Linked DNA regions of Homo sapiens: region 2 is linked to region 1. Evidence: fine-mapped expression QTL. Tissue or cell type: monocytes. Region 1 holds a variant in brackets; the other region holds the start of a gene. All regions are shown on one strand. Distances are from middle to middle.

What was found. PIP is the estimated chance that this variant, and not a neighbour inherited with it, causes the effect.
Region 2: it holds the start of LINC00467, and the variant in region 1 is the best candidate, but not a certain one, in a credible set for the expression of LINC00467 in monocytes (Fairfax 2014, PIP 0.58).

Annotation. Positions count from the first base shown.
Region 1 is chr1:211,430,266-211,438,449 of GRCh38, reverse strand. LINC00467 (long intergenic non-protein coding RNA 467) reads right to left here. Exons shown (of 6, transcript NR_026761.2): 6 at 5,915-6,131. Among named protein-coding and RNA genes, the nearest start is that of LINC00467, 52 kb to the right of the region's middle. The variant T/GTT (reference allele first, on the strand shown) is at 4,579.
Region 2 is chr1:211,378,279-211,386,462 of GRCh38, reverse strand. LINC00467 (long intergenic non-protein coding RNA 467) reads right to left here and starts at 3,708. Exons shown (of 6, transcript NR_026761.2): 1 at 3,538-3,708. LOC124904504 (a long non-coding RNA gene) reads left to right here and starts at 3,719. Exons shown (of 2, transcript XR_007066868.1): 1 at 3,719-3,870; 2 at 4,065-8,184. LOC107985259 (a long non-coding RNA gene) reads left to right here and starts at 2,179. Exons shown (of 2, transcript XR_001738447.1): 1 at 2,179-3,192; 2 at 3,509-3,637. RefSeq lists an enhancer at 3,526-3,595.

The DNA.
Region 1 (8,184 bases):
GAGGCAGGAGAATAGCTTGAACCCTGGAAGTGGAGGTTGCAGTGAGCTGAGATCATGCCACTGCACTCCAGCCTGGGCGACAGAGTGAGACTCTGTCTCAAAAAAGAAAAAAAAGAATATTGTGTCCCATTAGTTGAAGAATACAGTAATTTAGTTTTGTAGTTTTATTTATTTATTTAGAGACAAGAGTCTCACTCTGTTGTTCAGGCTGGAATGCAGTGGCTCAATATCGGCTCACTGCAGCCTCCGCCTCCCGGGTTCCAGTGAATCTCCTGCCTCAGCCTCCCAGGTAGCTGGGATTACAAGCGCCTGCCACCACATCCGGCTAATTTTTGTATTTTTAGTAGAGATGGGGTTTCACCATGTTGGCCAGGCTGCTCTTGAACTCCTGACCTCAGTTGATCTGCTTGCCTTGGCCTCCCAAAGTGCTAGGATTACAGGCATGAGCCACCACACCTGGCCTTTATTATTTTTTTAGAGACAGGATCTGACTGTCATCCAGGCTGGAGTGCAATGGCATGATCATGGGTCACTCACTGCTGCCTCAAACTCCTGGGATCAAGTGATCCTACTGCCTCAGCCTCCCCAGTAGCTCGGACTACAGGTGTGTGCCACTATGCCCAGCTAATTTTTAAATTTTATTTTTGTAGAGACAGGGTTGCACTATGTTGCCCGGGCTTGTCATGAACTCCTGGCCTCAAGTGACCCTCCCACCTCAGCCTCCCAAAGAGCTAGGATTACAACCATGAGCCGCTTTACCTGGCTAGTCTTGTATTTTAATCAATGTCTCCATAGAATTTGTACCTATGCTAACAAGGAAATATTATCAATTTGAGTTTTATCTTTAACTAAAAACTAGGCATTTGGATCCAGGAACATCAGAAATTCAACCGTGATATTTCAGATCTCAGGGAGAGGTTTCTAACTTTATTTTTTAGAGGAAGAAACTAAAGCTTAGGGGGTAATACGACTTTTCCACGTGAAAGGATAGGGTTTTCTCCCTCCTTTATCCCCTCCTTTAGAAGAGGTCTTTGATGAGGCATAGAAAAGAGAGACTGTTAGCATAACAACCCACTGGAATTATCACAGCAGAAAGTCAGAATTATTAAAAGTGTGTTAGTTTTATAGATATTTCACCCAAACATGATGGAATTATCTATATTGATATTTCAGGAATGAAATCATTTTCATGACTTCTTACTTCATTTTAATCCCTGAATATAATTTAACCTCTTCATTATACAACAAGCTGGGTAATACTAGGTTTTGTGGGGCCTAAAGCTTATACAATTTGAAGGACCCACTAAGAAAAAAGAATACAAAGTCAGGTACTTTTTTTTTTTTTTTTTTGAGACGGAGTCTCGTTCTGTCGCCCAGGCTGGAGTGCAGTGGCGCAATCTTGGCTCACTGCAAGCTCTGCCTCTTGGGTTCACGCCATTCTCCTGCCTCAGCCTCCCAAGTAGCTGGGACTACAGGCAGCCGCCACAACGCCCGGCTAATTTTTTTGTATTTTTAGTAGAGACGGGGTTTCACTGTGTTAGCCAGGATGGTCTCCATCTCCTGACCTCGTGATCCACCCGCCTCAGCCTCCCAAAGTGCTGGGATTACAGGCGTGAGCCACCGCGCCCAGCCAAAGTCAGGTACTTTTAAATGTGAATATTTATGTGCAATGGTAACAGAAATTACAAATTATAAATTTTACTTGACACAGCAGAAATATAACAAAATCCAGAAAAATAACATTCTATTTTTATTAACTGCTTGACATATCTATATATTATTTTTTCCAACTTTTTTGGATGCATACTCTTTGTCACTTCACTGTATGACTTTGTAATATCTTTTTTTATATATATATAAATTCAGTCCTTCCTCTGGCATAGTTGATAATTTTTTTTTAATTATAGGATACAAAATTCACAAGTATGTCTTTACACAGCTATGTAGGTACACTATTTGTATTACTGCTGCAGGGTTGTGCTAGGTATTGATGAGACCCAAATCCTCTGCTAACAATTTTTCCAATTTTTCGTATCTGATTATTTGACATTTTCTACAGATTACGTTCTACTAGGTACTTTTACTTTTTTTTTTTTTTTTTTGAGACAGGGTCTCACTCTGTCACCCAGGCTGCAGGGCAGTGGCATGATCTCGGCTCACTGCAACCTCCACCTCTCAGGTTCAAGCAATTCTCCTATCTCAGCTTCCCAAGTAGCCAGGACTACAGGCGCACACCACCATGCCTGGCTAATTTTTGTATTTTTAGTAGAGACAGGGTTTCACCATGTTGGCCAGGCTGGTCTTGAATTGCTGACCTCAAGTGATCTGCCTGCCTCTGCCTCCCAAAGTGCTGGGTTTACAGGCATGAGCCACTGCGCCCGGCCAGCTCTATACATTTCAAACCCTGTTTCTCCTCTAATACCCATTTAACTTCCAATGCCAGGCAACCTAGGACAGATTCACATTGTGGTAAGACCTCTGGCCCTGCACCTTGGTGTTACAAAAGCATATGACCATGTAAGCCCCATGCTAGGGACCCTCCCAGGGCCTTGGCAGGGGCCCTGAAGCTTAAGCTTCATCAGCTTCCTGGTATCAGGAAGCTCAGCTGATGAAGAAAATGGAGAGGAAAACAGCTTGGGAGGAACAAATTGGCATGAGAACGCAGGTCTCCTTACTGTGGTCCACAGTGTTTTCCACCAGAACATATTTTAAATCTTTTTAAAATTCTTCTCCATTAAATTACCTCTTGCTTTTGATTTTGTTTACATGATTCTTTCAGTAGATTTAACTTTTATCCCAGAAAGCATTATACCTCTCGAAAGTGAGAGTTTTATTCATAATTTGATCCATCAAAAGTACTATTCATATGGATAAATACAAGCTTGAAATTAAGAACAAATCCAGAGAAGTAATGCACTACTTCAAACTCCATTTAGTCAAACTACTTCTGTTATTCTGTCTTCCAGAGGTATGGTTACTGTTTTAATTAATCTACAAATAACAAAAAACGATTTGAAATAATGTCTAATATCTACATTTTATTATGCCCTTTTGAAGAGACCACGGTTTTCCCATAATTATGAATATTAGTTTTCCTGGAAAAAAGAAACAGTCCATTTATAAACTAAAATGCCTTTATTTCTTCAGTAAATAAGAAAATGAAAAACAAACAAAAATCCCTGTATCCTCTGCTGGTACATTTCAGAAATGTCACCATTTCAAACATAAGGAAATAATTTTCTTGATACATAAATACTAGAAGCCCAAGAAAATATGAAGGGGAAATTATCTATAGTCATATGCTAAATATCTCTGTAATCAAAGATAAAGATGCTTAATTTATCTGCAATCCTATTATAATTTACCTTGAGTTAATATCCTTGGGGAAAAGAATCCTTTAAGGAATTCTATTCAGTAAAACACTACATTAGGATAATATGAACAACATATTGTTTTATTTTTAAAAATAGTTTTAGAGATAGGGTCTTGCTCTGTCACCCTGGCTGGAGTACAGTGGTGTAATCATAGTTCACTGCAGCCTCAAATTCCTGGGCTCAAGCGATCCTCCTACCTCAGCTTCCCAAGTAGCCAGGACTACAGGTTGGCATCATCATGTCTGGCTAATTTTTCTATTTTTTTTTTTTTAGAGATGGGGGTCTCTTTATGCTGCCCAGGCTTGTCTCAAACTCCTGGGGGCTCAAGAGATCCTCCTGCTTTTGGCGTCCCAAAGTGCTGAGATTACAGGCGTGAGCTACTGAGCCTGGCCTACGAACAGCATATTAAATTCTAACATCGGCACAGAATGATACTCAAGATTATTTTTAAGTTGTCTGCCTCAGTGACAACGTAACAGTATCAAAATTTCCAATAAAAAAATCAATTAGGCACAGTGGCTCACACTTGTAATCTTCATTTTGGGAGGCCAAGGTGGGGCCATTGCTTGAAGCCAGGAGTACGAGACCAGCCGGGGCAACACAGAAAGACCATGTCTCTACAAAAAAATCTAAAAATTAGCTGGACATGGTGGTGTGCACCTGTGGTCCCAGCTACTTGGGAGGCTGAAGTGGGAGCATCATTTGAATCCAAGAGGTCTAGGCTGCAGTGAGCCATGATCATACTCTCACACTCCAGCCTAGGTAACACAGCCAAGACCCTGAATAAATAAATAAATGAATCAATGACTGAATGAATATAAAAAAAACAACCTAGCCCTCTCTTTCAACATTTACTTCTAACAGGAGTTTGTTTTAAAAGCAAATATCAAGTACACAGTTAGATGGGATACACATTCAATCATAAACCTAAGTGAGCAAAAATCCCAAGGATCTATAAAACTATCAAAGGCAACATAAAAGGCTTACCTGGCAAATTGCTGTTTCTGTTTGTTGTTTTTTGTAGACAGAGTCTTGCTCTGGCGCCCAGGCTGGAGTGCAGTGGTGTGATCTTCGCTCACCGCAGCCTCTGCCTCCCAAGCTCAAGCAATCCTCCCACCTCAGCCTCCCGAGTAGCTGGGACTACAGGCATGTGCCACCATGCCTGGCTAAATTTGTGTGTGTGTGTGTGTGTGTGTGTGTGTGT[T/GTT]TGTAGAGACAGAGTTTCACCGTGTGTGTGTGTGTGTGTTTGTAGAGACAGAGTTTCACCATTTCGGCCAGGCTGGCCTCAAACTCCTGAGCTAAAGCAATCCGCCTGCCTTGGCCTCCTAAAGTGCTGGGATTACAAGCCTCAGTCACCACGCGTGGTCTGCTTTCTTATTTTATAAAACACTGTGATAATTTTTTTCTTATATAATTTTTATTTTTTTCAACTTTCATTTTTAGACTTAGGGGATAGATGTGCAGGTTTGATTCCTGGGTATACTGCATGATGTGATCATTTTTAGACCTGAAAACTTTTTGTTGGAAACCCACAATCAGTGTACCTAATGCAAAGGAACATTACATCATGCTCTAAAAACAAATATTTGAGATTATGAAAACCTGTAATATTTGTTGAAAGAAGAAGACATAATTGCAAATGTAAACATAAGACGCGGGAAGAAAAACTAAGTAAGAAGTACATGGGCCAGGTACGGTGGCTCACACCTGTAATCCCAGCGCTTTGGGAGACTGAAGTGGGTAGATCACCTGAGGTTAGGAGTTCGAGACCAGCCTGGCCAACATGGTGAAACCCTGTCTTTACTAAAAATACAAAAATTAGCTGGGCGTGGTGGTGCACACCTGTAATCCCAGCTACTTGGGAGGCTGAGGCATGAGAATCGCTTGAACCCAGGAGACAGAGGTTGCAGTGAGCTGAGATGGCGCCACTGCACTCCAGCCTGTATGACAAGAGTGAAACTCCATCTCAAAAACAATAACAACAAAAAAGAAGTACACAGAGGCCAAGCACGGTAGTTCACGCCTGTAATCCCAGCACTTTGGGATGCCGTGGGGAACAGATAACCTGAGGTCAGGAGTTCGAGAGCAGCCTGGACAAAATAGCGAAACCATGTCTCTACTAGAAATACAAAATCAGCTGGGTGTGGTGGCATGGACCTGTAGTCCCAGATACTCAGGAGGCTGAGGCAGGAGAAGCACTTGAACCTGGGAGGCGGAGGTTGCCGTGAGGCGACACTGGCCCACTGCACTCCAGCCTGGGCGACCAGAGTGAAACTCTGTCTCAAAAAAAAAAAAAAAAAAAAAAAAAAACATGGAAAAGACTTTATCTTTTTCATGCCATCTGTAAGTCTTCTACCTTGCATAGAACTTTGGTAAAAGTATTTTATACGTAATTAATTAGGCATAATATTCAAGAAAGCAGACTTATTCTCCTCCTTCCCTACAACACACTTGAATATAAAAAAAAAGTAGGCTAGAATTGCCACAACTGGCTTGGACTTGAGGCTCTCAAGTTTTGCACGTGGGCCTTCAAAAACAAAATATAATTTCCAAACTCTTTATTATGTGGTTTACAGAGCATCTGAAGATTGGTTTCATGAGTCTGAACTTAGTGTGAAAGATGTTCAAATTCAAATCCCCAAGCCAGCGCATCAATGTTTTTGTAGGCTTCACAGTGCTGGGCTCCGCATCCTTCTTTGGCCGCCTTACACCAAAACGCTGAGCTTGGAAATCAAAAGGGTCAGCCCAGTTTCAGTCCCTCTGCAGACAATAAGTAGAACACATTAGAATAGATTTACTACCTATTTTATTATACATAATACTTACAGTAGAAAACAGAAATTTTGGACATCATTGTTTTTAGATGAGAACACGTTAAGCCTTGAAAAGTAAGTTAAATTAACACTGGAGCTTTACTTCAAACTCTAAACATATAGTCTTTAAAACGCTAATAATACTATTAATCATCAAGTTTTACCATTAAATAAATGTTTTAGATACAGTGGCTTTATTTCAGACTCCATTTCCTGTGGCCTAAAAAATGGGGAGAAAAATAAACTTCAACTATAACAATCTAAATTTCAAATGGTAAGAGGTTATTCTATGTGGAAAAAACACAAACAAGGATTTATAAAGACTGAGTGGAAATGAAAATAACTGACAGTAAATTTCTTGGATTTGCAAATTTTGAATACTTATTTTGAAGGTTGGAATGTTTAGCAACTTTTAACCTTAAATTATTTCAAATCAACCAAGTACTTAGTTTTGTGGAAATTTTGTGAGGGTGAGGCTCATTAGTGAGTTTTTAATTCACAAAAATAAAATCCAATTCCAATTACCAAGTAATATTTTAGAGTTATCTTAGATTGTACAACTGGCCACATATTTTAGGGAGGTACAACAGTTTATAATGGGATACAATACTTTGCACATATTAAATGTTAATTCCTATTGTATCTTTATCCTTTTTTCTCTTAAAAATTTTTTTCATTTTATTTATTCTCACTTTATTATAGTTTTCCTTTTTCCCAGAAATCACCACAACATTACAGTCTGGTATTTAGCATATAAGCATATTTGTTCTTCAGCATAGTTAACATTATCCAGTAGTATCTGATGCCATCCTGCTGTTAATTCTGCTGTTAATTCTGCTGCCTAGATTGCTAGACCCCAACCACAGCTTGGCAGAGAGTGAAGGGAGGTTTTGTTTTTGTACCCCTTTATTCTGGTCTAGTGCAAGAGGAAAGAAGAGCTCTCTGCCATTGCAGGTAGCCAGACTAATGCTAGGAAGGGAAAAAGCTTTAACTCTGAGTAAAGTTCAGAGTTATTCATTATTGCAGCTATCAAGGAGAACATTCAAAACTTGGAAATAAGGTTAAGCGATAGCTGCATGACCTTTTAATGTCATGTTAGGGCACTGTTTAAAAAGGCTGCCTAACAGTCATCTAATTCTCCAGGGAAAGTAATTTTGTTGCACACTGTATTCACTATGGCTTGGAGCTCACATATCTACATAACAAACAATTTTATAGCTAGAGGCTAACAAATAAAATGGATGAAGTGTGACAATTCTCTTTTCTGACCAGTAGAAAGGGTAATTTTAAAGATTATACTTTCATTGCCCTATAGAACTGACTAGTTTTGTATCTAATTTAGCAATCTTATCTCAGCATTCCTTTTTCCCCCATTCATTATAAAAAACAATAACCAAGTCTTTAATATTATCATTTCAACTAACTTTTTCATCCTACTGGTTCCCTCACTGAGTTAAATGAAACTTGGGCACATGCCCCCAATCTATTGTATTCTAATTTGAACCTATTTAACTCTCATCTTAGAATTATGTTTCTATGCAGTGGTTCATGCCTGTAATCCCTGCACTTTGGGAGGCAGAGGGCAGGTGGATCAGGAGGTCAGGAGTTCAAGACCAGCCTGGCCAAGATGGTGAAACCCCGTCTCTACTAAAAATACAAAAATTAGCTGGGCATTGTGGCAGGTGCCTGTAATCCCAGCTACTTGGGAGGCTGAGGCAGGAGAATCGCTTGAACTCAGGCAGCAGAGGTCACAGTGAGCCACTATCGTGCCATTGCATTCCAGCCTGGGTGACAGAACAAGACTCCGTCTCAAAAAAAAGAATAATGTTTCTAAGATTACAAGAATTTTACCTTGTATCACTGGGGCCAGAAATTGTGCTAAATGGCTATTACTAGCTGTAAGGGAGGCTGGGAATTTGAAGATTCACTTTTTAGTCTTTGTAAGCTAAAAAGAAAAACAAGAGCTTTCAAGAGACCAAACCTATAATAACTGTCACTAA
Region 2 (8,184 bases), 52 kb after region 1:
CTAATATACTGCTGAATTCAATTTGCTATTATTTTTTGAGGAAGTTGTATCTTTGTTCATGAGGGATTTTAACTTTTAGATTTGTTTTTTGTATTGTCTTTATCTGGTTTTGGTATCCAGAAAATGCTGCCTTCATAAAATGAGTTAAGTGTTTCTTCCTTTTCTACGATCCAAAGAGCTTGTAAGAGAACTGTTATTTTTTCATCCTTGAATGTTTGGTGAAATTTGCCAGTGAAATTATCTCGGCCTGGAGCTTTCTTTTTTTTTAAAGTTATTATTCTTTTTTTTTCTTCCTGGCAAGAAGACTCTTGCCAGGGTTTGTTTTTTGGTTGTCGTTTTGTTTGTTCGTTTTTCTCACAAATTCTATTTCTTTAATACTTATAGGACTATTTCATTTACCTATTTTGTCCTGGGTGAGTTTTGGTAATTTTGATAGTGGCCCATTTCTCTCACATTATCAAATTTATAAGTACAGAGGTGTTCGTGTATTACCTCATCCTTTTTAATGTCTGTTGGGTTGGGAGTGCTCTTAGAGCACGTATGTTTGTTTCTTTTTTAAATTTGTACTTAAATTTTTATTTGCTGATCTTCTCTGTATCATTCCAATTTTAGTATATGTGCTACTGAAGCAAGCACTAGCACAGATGTTATAGGAATGACTTCAATAAAATACTGAAGACAAGGTAGACCTGCAGCATAACTGATCCTCGAACCTTGTTATCATTGATTTCCTCTTTCAATTCCATATCCAGTCAGATATTTGATTTGTCCTTGTCAATACTTCTTCTGATTTCTCTTCATTCCCAATACTGCTTGGCACAGTCTCCTACCTAAATGATTCCCCTGCCACTTAACTAGTCTCGTTGCTTTTTCCCACTGTCATGCATTTTTCATACTGCTACCAGATTTATCTTTTTAGACCTCAAATGGTTCAACACTGCCCACAAGATAAAGGCCTTCCACATCTGGCTTAGTTCTGGTGTTCTGAATAATACTTTTTCCCTAAATCAAGGGTTTTTAACATTTAAATTTGAGAAGGAGTAGTCAACAAATCTCCTAAAATTAAGCATAAAATGTTGTATGGATGTGAATTTTATTTCCAGAGCAAGATCTACAGCTTTTTTAAAAAATTTATTTTTAGGCTGGGTCTCATGGCTCACACCTATAATCCTAGCACTTGGGAAGGCCGGGGTGGGTTGATTGCTTAGGCCAGGAGTTTGAGACCACCCAGGCCAACGTAGCAAAACCCATATCTACTAAAGTTACAAAAATTAGTCAGGTGTGATGGTGCACACCTATAGTCCCAGCTACTCGGGAGGCTGAAGCATGAGAATCACTTGAACCCAGGAGGCAGATGTTGCAGTGAGCCAAGATTGCACCAGCCTGGGTGACAAAGCAAGACTGTCTCAGAAAAACATAATTTTTATATATTTAGAGGGTACGAGTGCAGAATTCTTAGATGTACATATTGCACAGTGGTGAAGCCTGGGCTTTTAGTGTACCCATTACCAAAATTGTGAGCATTGTTCCCAGTATGTAACTTTTCAACCCTCACCCCCCTCCCATCCTCCCACCTTTTGTAGTCTGCAGTGTCTATATGTACGTGTACCCATCACTTCTCAGCTCCTGCTTTAAGTGAGAACATGTGATATTTGGCTTTCTGAGTTATTTCGGTTAGGATAATGGCTTCCAGTTCTATCCATGTTGCTGAAAAAACATGACTTTTTAATGGCTAAATAGTATTCCATGGCATACACACACACACACACACACACACACACACCACCACATTTTCTTTACCCAATCCTCTGTTGATGGAGGGTCTACAGATTTTATCAGATATTCAAAATGAGAAAATTGTACTCTGAATCCTTCAACCTTGTCTCTGTATCGAGAACACACTACAGGTGGGGTGCAGTGGCTCATACCTGTAATCCCAGCACTTTGGGAGGCCAAGGTGGGAGGACTGCTTGAAGCCAGGAGTTCAAGACCAGCCTGGGCAACATAGTGAGACCCTGTCTCTACAAAAAATACAAAAATTAGCCGGGCATGGTGGTGCACACCTGTAGTCCCAGATACTCAGGAGGCTGAGGTGGAGGCTGCAGTGAGCTCTGATCACGCCACTGCACTCCAGCCTGGGCGACAGAGTGAGACCCTGTCTCAAAAACAAACAAACAAAAAAACAAAAAAAAACACTAAAAACAAACTACAGCCTCCACCTCCCTCAATAGTGAGTACAGAGTTATCACTCCTCTCTCTGAAATTAGATTTATAATATTTTAGTGACCTAGCCTAACCTTAACATTTTACAGATGAGTAAACACATCTAGCACTTTTACCTGATTTGTCCAAAGTTGCTCTTATACAATTTGTATTCTGTGCAACTGAGATGGGATTTATCTGCTATTTTATGTGGCCTTTTTATGAAGGCCTTTTCATGTTTCTCCTTCAGGTCGGAACTAAACCTCAGAGTTCTTCAAAACCCCAATTACCTTTATTGTCTTACATAAGCTAGCTGCCCAAATGTTTGCTGAGAATAGTGATAACCATTGTCATATTGAGGTAGAGGAAGGGGGCTGGTTGGTGGGTACTGGTTTAGGGGTACTTTTTTAAGGAAGCATGAGCACATTTTGGATATGCAAAATATTATTAAGTTTAGAGCTTAGATTTGGAAAAACAACACTTAAGCGTCTGTGTAAGGAGAGCTCTGAGAAAAGGGTTTTCAGACAGAACCCAAATTTCTCAAGAAGAACCCTCTAAACAGCATTAAGGAAAAAAATTCCTCTGTAGAAGCAACTAAGAAAAAAAGGAATACTCAGTATTTGGGAAAGAGAAAGGAATGAATGATAACAACACCAGATTGAGTAAGCTACACAATAAATCCAAATTTCAGCCCTACCACATCCAACCTATGTTGCCTTGAGCAAATTATTAAACTTTTCTGTGCCTCAATTTTCTCATGTCTGCCTACTTAAGGACTGCGTGGGAAGATTAAATAAAATGCATGTAAAGCACTTAGGTCAGTACCTTACTCTTAAGGCACTCTTAAGGGTTTGAGAAGGAAGGGAGGGACGTTAAGTGGAATGGTCCTTGGTACATTTTTGTTCCGCGGCAGTAGGATTCTGAAACAGAGGACATAATTACAAAGAAAGTTGGAGTAAGAAGTGGTGGTGCGGGCATCACATTTTCCTGGTGAGTATCTGAGGGCCCATCACAACTGTAGGAAGCGGAAGGGCTAATAAGTGTCAGGCCAAGAGCACACCCTCCAGGGTGCATCTGAGAAGTCGGCGGCCGTCGAGTATTAGCACTTAAATACTACGAGAGCTTTCATGACAAAGGACACATCTTTTGGGGAAACTCAGAGCTTGGGAGCGGCCTCATTAGCGGGGGACCGGGCAGAGGGGGGCTACCAACAGTCCCCTCGGAGTGACCGAAGGGAGATTGAGGAAAGAGTGAGGTGGGAAGAAAATGGCGGCGCGGCTTCTACCGGTTTGCCTTCACACTCTAGCCACAGCCCCGGCTGGAACGGTCACTTACTGGAAACTGCAGAGAAACAACCTGTTTGGTCCGACTTGACAACCTCAACCGGACCGAAGGTGCTGAACAACCAGTGCGGCGAGCGCCGCGAAACCCAACGCCCGACCGCGTAGGGAACGTCACAGCGCGCGCACGCGCAACAGTCGACTAGAAATGTCCGGCCTACGCCACAGAGCGGGGCGGGAGCGGAAGCGACTCTTCCGGTCGCGGGAGCCTTAGGCAAGAGCTGCTGGACTGGAGGGAGGGAGGGGAGGGGAGGGGAGGGGCGCGGGGACTCAAGCCACGGTTTTTGTGTCCGCGGCTGCACCCCTCTCGAAGCGTTTTCACGCACATGTGAGAAACCTCACACCCTGGGGCCGATTTCTTTAGTAGATTGGCGCCCAAATGGCAAAGATTTCCAGGGATTTGTTTGGGATTCCATATTTTTGTAGATTTGCCGAGATTGGATACTAGTACAATATTGAGAATTCCCGTCCAGCAATGTGGCTATTTTTTTAAATTAATTCAGTTCTCCCTTTGTTTTTCAGGTAAAGCGTTGCAGTTCGCTTGGTGTTGTGCGCATTTAACATTTTTTCATAGCTATTTTTGTTATTGTAGTTTGTTTTTACTAATAGACTATTAATCCATTAGTATCCTTGTATAAGAATGGCTTTTGATTGTTGATCTATCTGGACACTTCACTAAACGTTCGTATTCTAAAAATTTGACAGGCAGTCCTCTTTGATTTGTAGGTAAGAATTTATCTGTAAAGAACAATTTTGGCTTTTCCCAAGAATCCAGTGCAACACTGAATAGTAGCCGGAGGTACTTATTTCTTACCAGGAGTTATTTTGGATTGCATCTTAGGTTTCATTCAAGATATCTTCTGCAGGTTTATGGTGTGTGTGTGTGTGGGTGTATAGGCAAATTATGTTCTTTTCGTAGTTTACCATATCGGTTTTTTTTTTAATCAGCAAATGACTAAGTTTTACCAAGTATTTTCAGTATCAGTCTTTGAGATGATTGTATGGCCTTTTTTCCATTACTCTACAATAAAATAACTACAATAATAGATTTTCTAATGGTGAGCCAAACTTAGAATCCTGGTATCTTATTTTTTCAATATATTGCTGGATGCAATTTGCTGTGTAGTTAATTTTGGATTTTCATGTATGCACCTAAGTTAGATTGGCTTATGGTTTTCTTTTGCTGTCCTTGTCTAGTTTTGGTATCAGGTTGTGCTAGGAGTCAGACAGGTTAACTTATTTTTGTATGACCTGGAATAGACATAGCATGTGTGAATGATACATTTCTTAGGTTTTGAAGAACTCATCTTTAAAGCCTTCTGGGTGTGGTGCCATCTTAATGGATAGTTTTGTTTTTTATATAGCGTCCATCGTTATTGATACCTAGAATTTTTTCTTTTGCTTCTTGAGAAAATTAGTTTTTTCTAGAAAAGTATTGGCCGGGTGCGGTGACTCACGCCTGTGATCCCAGCACATTGGGAGGCCGAGGAGGGCGGATCACGAGGTCAGGAGATCGAGACCATCCTGGCTAACACGGTGAAACTCCGTCTCTACTAAAAATACGACAATGAAAAATTAGCCGGGCATGGTGGCGGGCGCCTGTAGTCCCAGCTACTCAGGAGGCTGAAGCAGGAGAATGGCTTGAACCCGGGAGGCGGAGCTTGCAGTGAGCTGAGATTTTGCTACTGCACTCCAGCCTGGGGGACAGAGCGAGACTCCATCTTTAAAAAAAAAGTATTTCAGCTATATTTTCTAACATTTAAAAAAATCTCATATTGTTCTCAACCATTCTTATATATTCTTATATATATATTCTTATATATTGTATTGGAGTCTTTTTCTTGATCATATTTATCAAACCAGCTTTTGGTTTTATAGATAAAATCTGTCTTAAAAGTAATTTCTCTTTCATTAATGTATGCCTTCATTAATTTCTTCTTATCTCTTTGGGTTTATTTTGTTCTTTTTATAGAATCTTGGAAGCTTAACTTTCCTTTAAAATGTTTAATATGAAATATTACCAGAATGTACAGTTACAGAAAATAATATAATGAACACTTGTATACCAACCATCTAGCTTTATCCCATTTTAACATTTTCTCTTATTTGCTTCAGATTTTAACATTCAGTTAGAGCTCCTTGTGAAACTGCCTGCAATCTCATTCTCCCTCTCTTCCTCTCTGAAATTAACTACTTCATTGAATTTGGTATCTGTCATTCCCATGAAAGCTTTTATGTATGCTCCAAATACATGTAGCGATGTTAAGTAGCATAAAGTACTGTTTTATGCTTTTTAAACCTAATATAAATGATATGCATGTCACTTACTTTTGCCACCTATAATTATGTATGTAAAATTTATCCAGGATGATTCCTGTAGTTCTAGTTTTATTTTAACTGCTGAATAGTATTCCATTGTATAATTGTACCACCATTTATCCATTCTCCAGTTGCTAGCAATTTCATGATTCCTGATTTCTGTCATTATAACATGAGTTAGTTCTTGCACACAGCTTCTTAGACATATGGTAAGAATTTCCTTAGGATAATGTCTAGAAATGGAATTGCAAGGTGGAAGGGTTTGCACAGTTCAACTTTGATATTGCCAAATTGTTCTCCAGTGGTTGTACTAACTTACCCTCCATCAGCAATGTAGGAGAGCTGCTGTTGCTCCATTCCATGCCAACACAGGTTATTTTTTTGCCCCAGTTTTTTTGTTTTGTTGTTTGGTTTTTTTTTTGCTGTTACCAACTGCTGACAGTAAATTTTCTTGTACATGTTTCCTGGTACACGTGTGCAAGAGTTTCTCTGACTATAAAGCTAATGCAGTTATTAACTCTATTTTGTTTTCGGTATGTTTTTTAAAAGCATGTACATGTCCCCCTCATTTGAGATTTCTCCCTGTTAATACTAACACTTAACTTATTCATAGATATATCTCACTCATTTTTTTCTATGTATCATGCTTCCTGTTCTCTTTACTGCCTTTGGTTTGACAGTCTTTTTTTCCAGTTTTTTTCCCGCTTTAGTGGTTTGAAAGTTATATTTGATTTTTATTCTATGAATAGTAGTTACTCTTCTAACTCATTTAAAGGTGTATCTTTATATATATGTGTGTGTGTGTGTTTAGAATTCATCAGTATCCATATGAGGCAGTCTGTGTAGTGGTTAAGAGTGGAGCCTGTGAGGCCAGACTGCCTGGATTCAGATCCTAGCACTACCACTTATTAGCTGAGTAACCTAGAGCTTATTACATAAACTCTCTGTGCCTCAGTTGTTTCATCTGTAAAGTGGGGATAATACAGCATATACCTCATGAGGTTGTTCTAAGATTAATATGTTAATATATGTAACATTCTTAGGACAGTGCCTAATGCTTGGATCTCTTTACCAGATTTTTCATCTATGGAATGGGCAGAAGACTTGCCTATCAGAGTTGTTACAAAAATTCAGTGCATTAGTGTATTCATTCATTTTAATACACTGAGCACCTGCTGTGCACTTTTGAATTAGACATGGTTCTCGGCTTCAGTGGTCTCATAAGGGAACAGACATGAAATGCAATTTCAATACGATTTAACCTTAATACTCTTCCCATGTTCTCTCTTGTCCCCCTTCTAATCTGTGCTCCACATTAAGAGGCAAAACATTAATCAGATCATGCATCCTCTGCCCATCATATGTTAACTTTCATTATACTTTACATAAACCATAAACTTCTCACCATGGCCTGAGCCCTCAGGTTCTAAACCCTGTGCCTCCCTCTCTAACCTCATCAACTATCATTCTCCTGATTTCTACCAAATTCCCACCACACTATCCTCTTCTCAGTTCCTTGAGCCAACACTCTTCAGTGCCCTCTGCTCAGATTACTGATCCACCCTGACAGCTCTTCCCACGACTGACTCATCTTTCAGATCTCAGCTTGATTAGGTCAGGCAGTTAGTTACAAGCAACGGAATCCACTCTGGTTGAGAAAGAAAAGGACTTTTAAAAAATCATGTAGCTCACAGAATCTCTAGGAGAGCCAGAGGCCAAATATGGAAACAACGGTACCCAAACACACTAGACGATCTAGTGAGAATCCATTGCTGCTGCCACCATTGACACCAAAACTGCAACTTCCACAAACACTGGCGGTCCCCACTGGTAGCCAGAGTTAGGCATGTTTCCTTCTTCATCTTGCTCACTTTTTTTTTTTTTTTTTTTTGGAGATGGAGTCTCACTCTGTCACCCAGGCTGGAGTGCAGTGGCATGATCTCAGCTCACTGCAACCTCTGCCTCCCAGGTTCAAGCAATTCTCCTGCCTCAGCCTCCCGAGTAGCTGGGACTACAGGTGCCCGCCACCACGCCCGGCTAATTTTTGTATTTTTAGTAGAGACGAGGTTTCACCTGTTGGCCAGGCTGGTCTCGAACTCCTGACCTTGTGATCCACCCTCCTCAGCCTCCCAAAGTGCTGGGATTACAGGCGCGAGCCACTGTGCCCAGCCTGTCTTGCTCACTTTCAAGTTGAAATTTTGCATTGGCTATGCCTGCTTGGTGGGGCCTAGGTCACATTGCTGTGCTACAAAGGGGGTCAAGGAGGCAAGTTTTCTCATAGGAAATGCCTCAGACTTTATAAGCGTGTTGAAAAGTGCTGGGT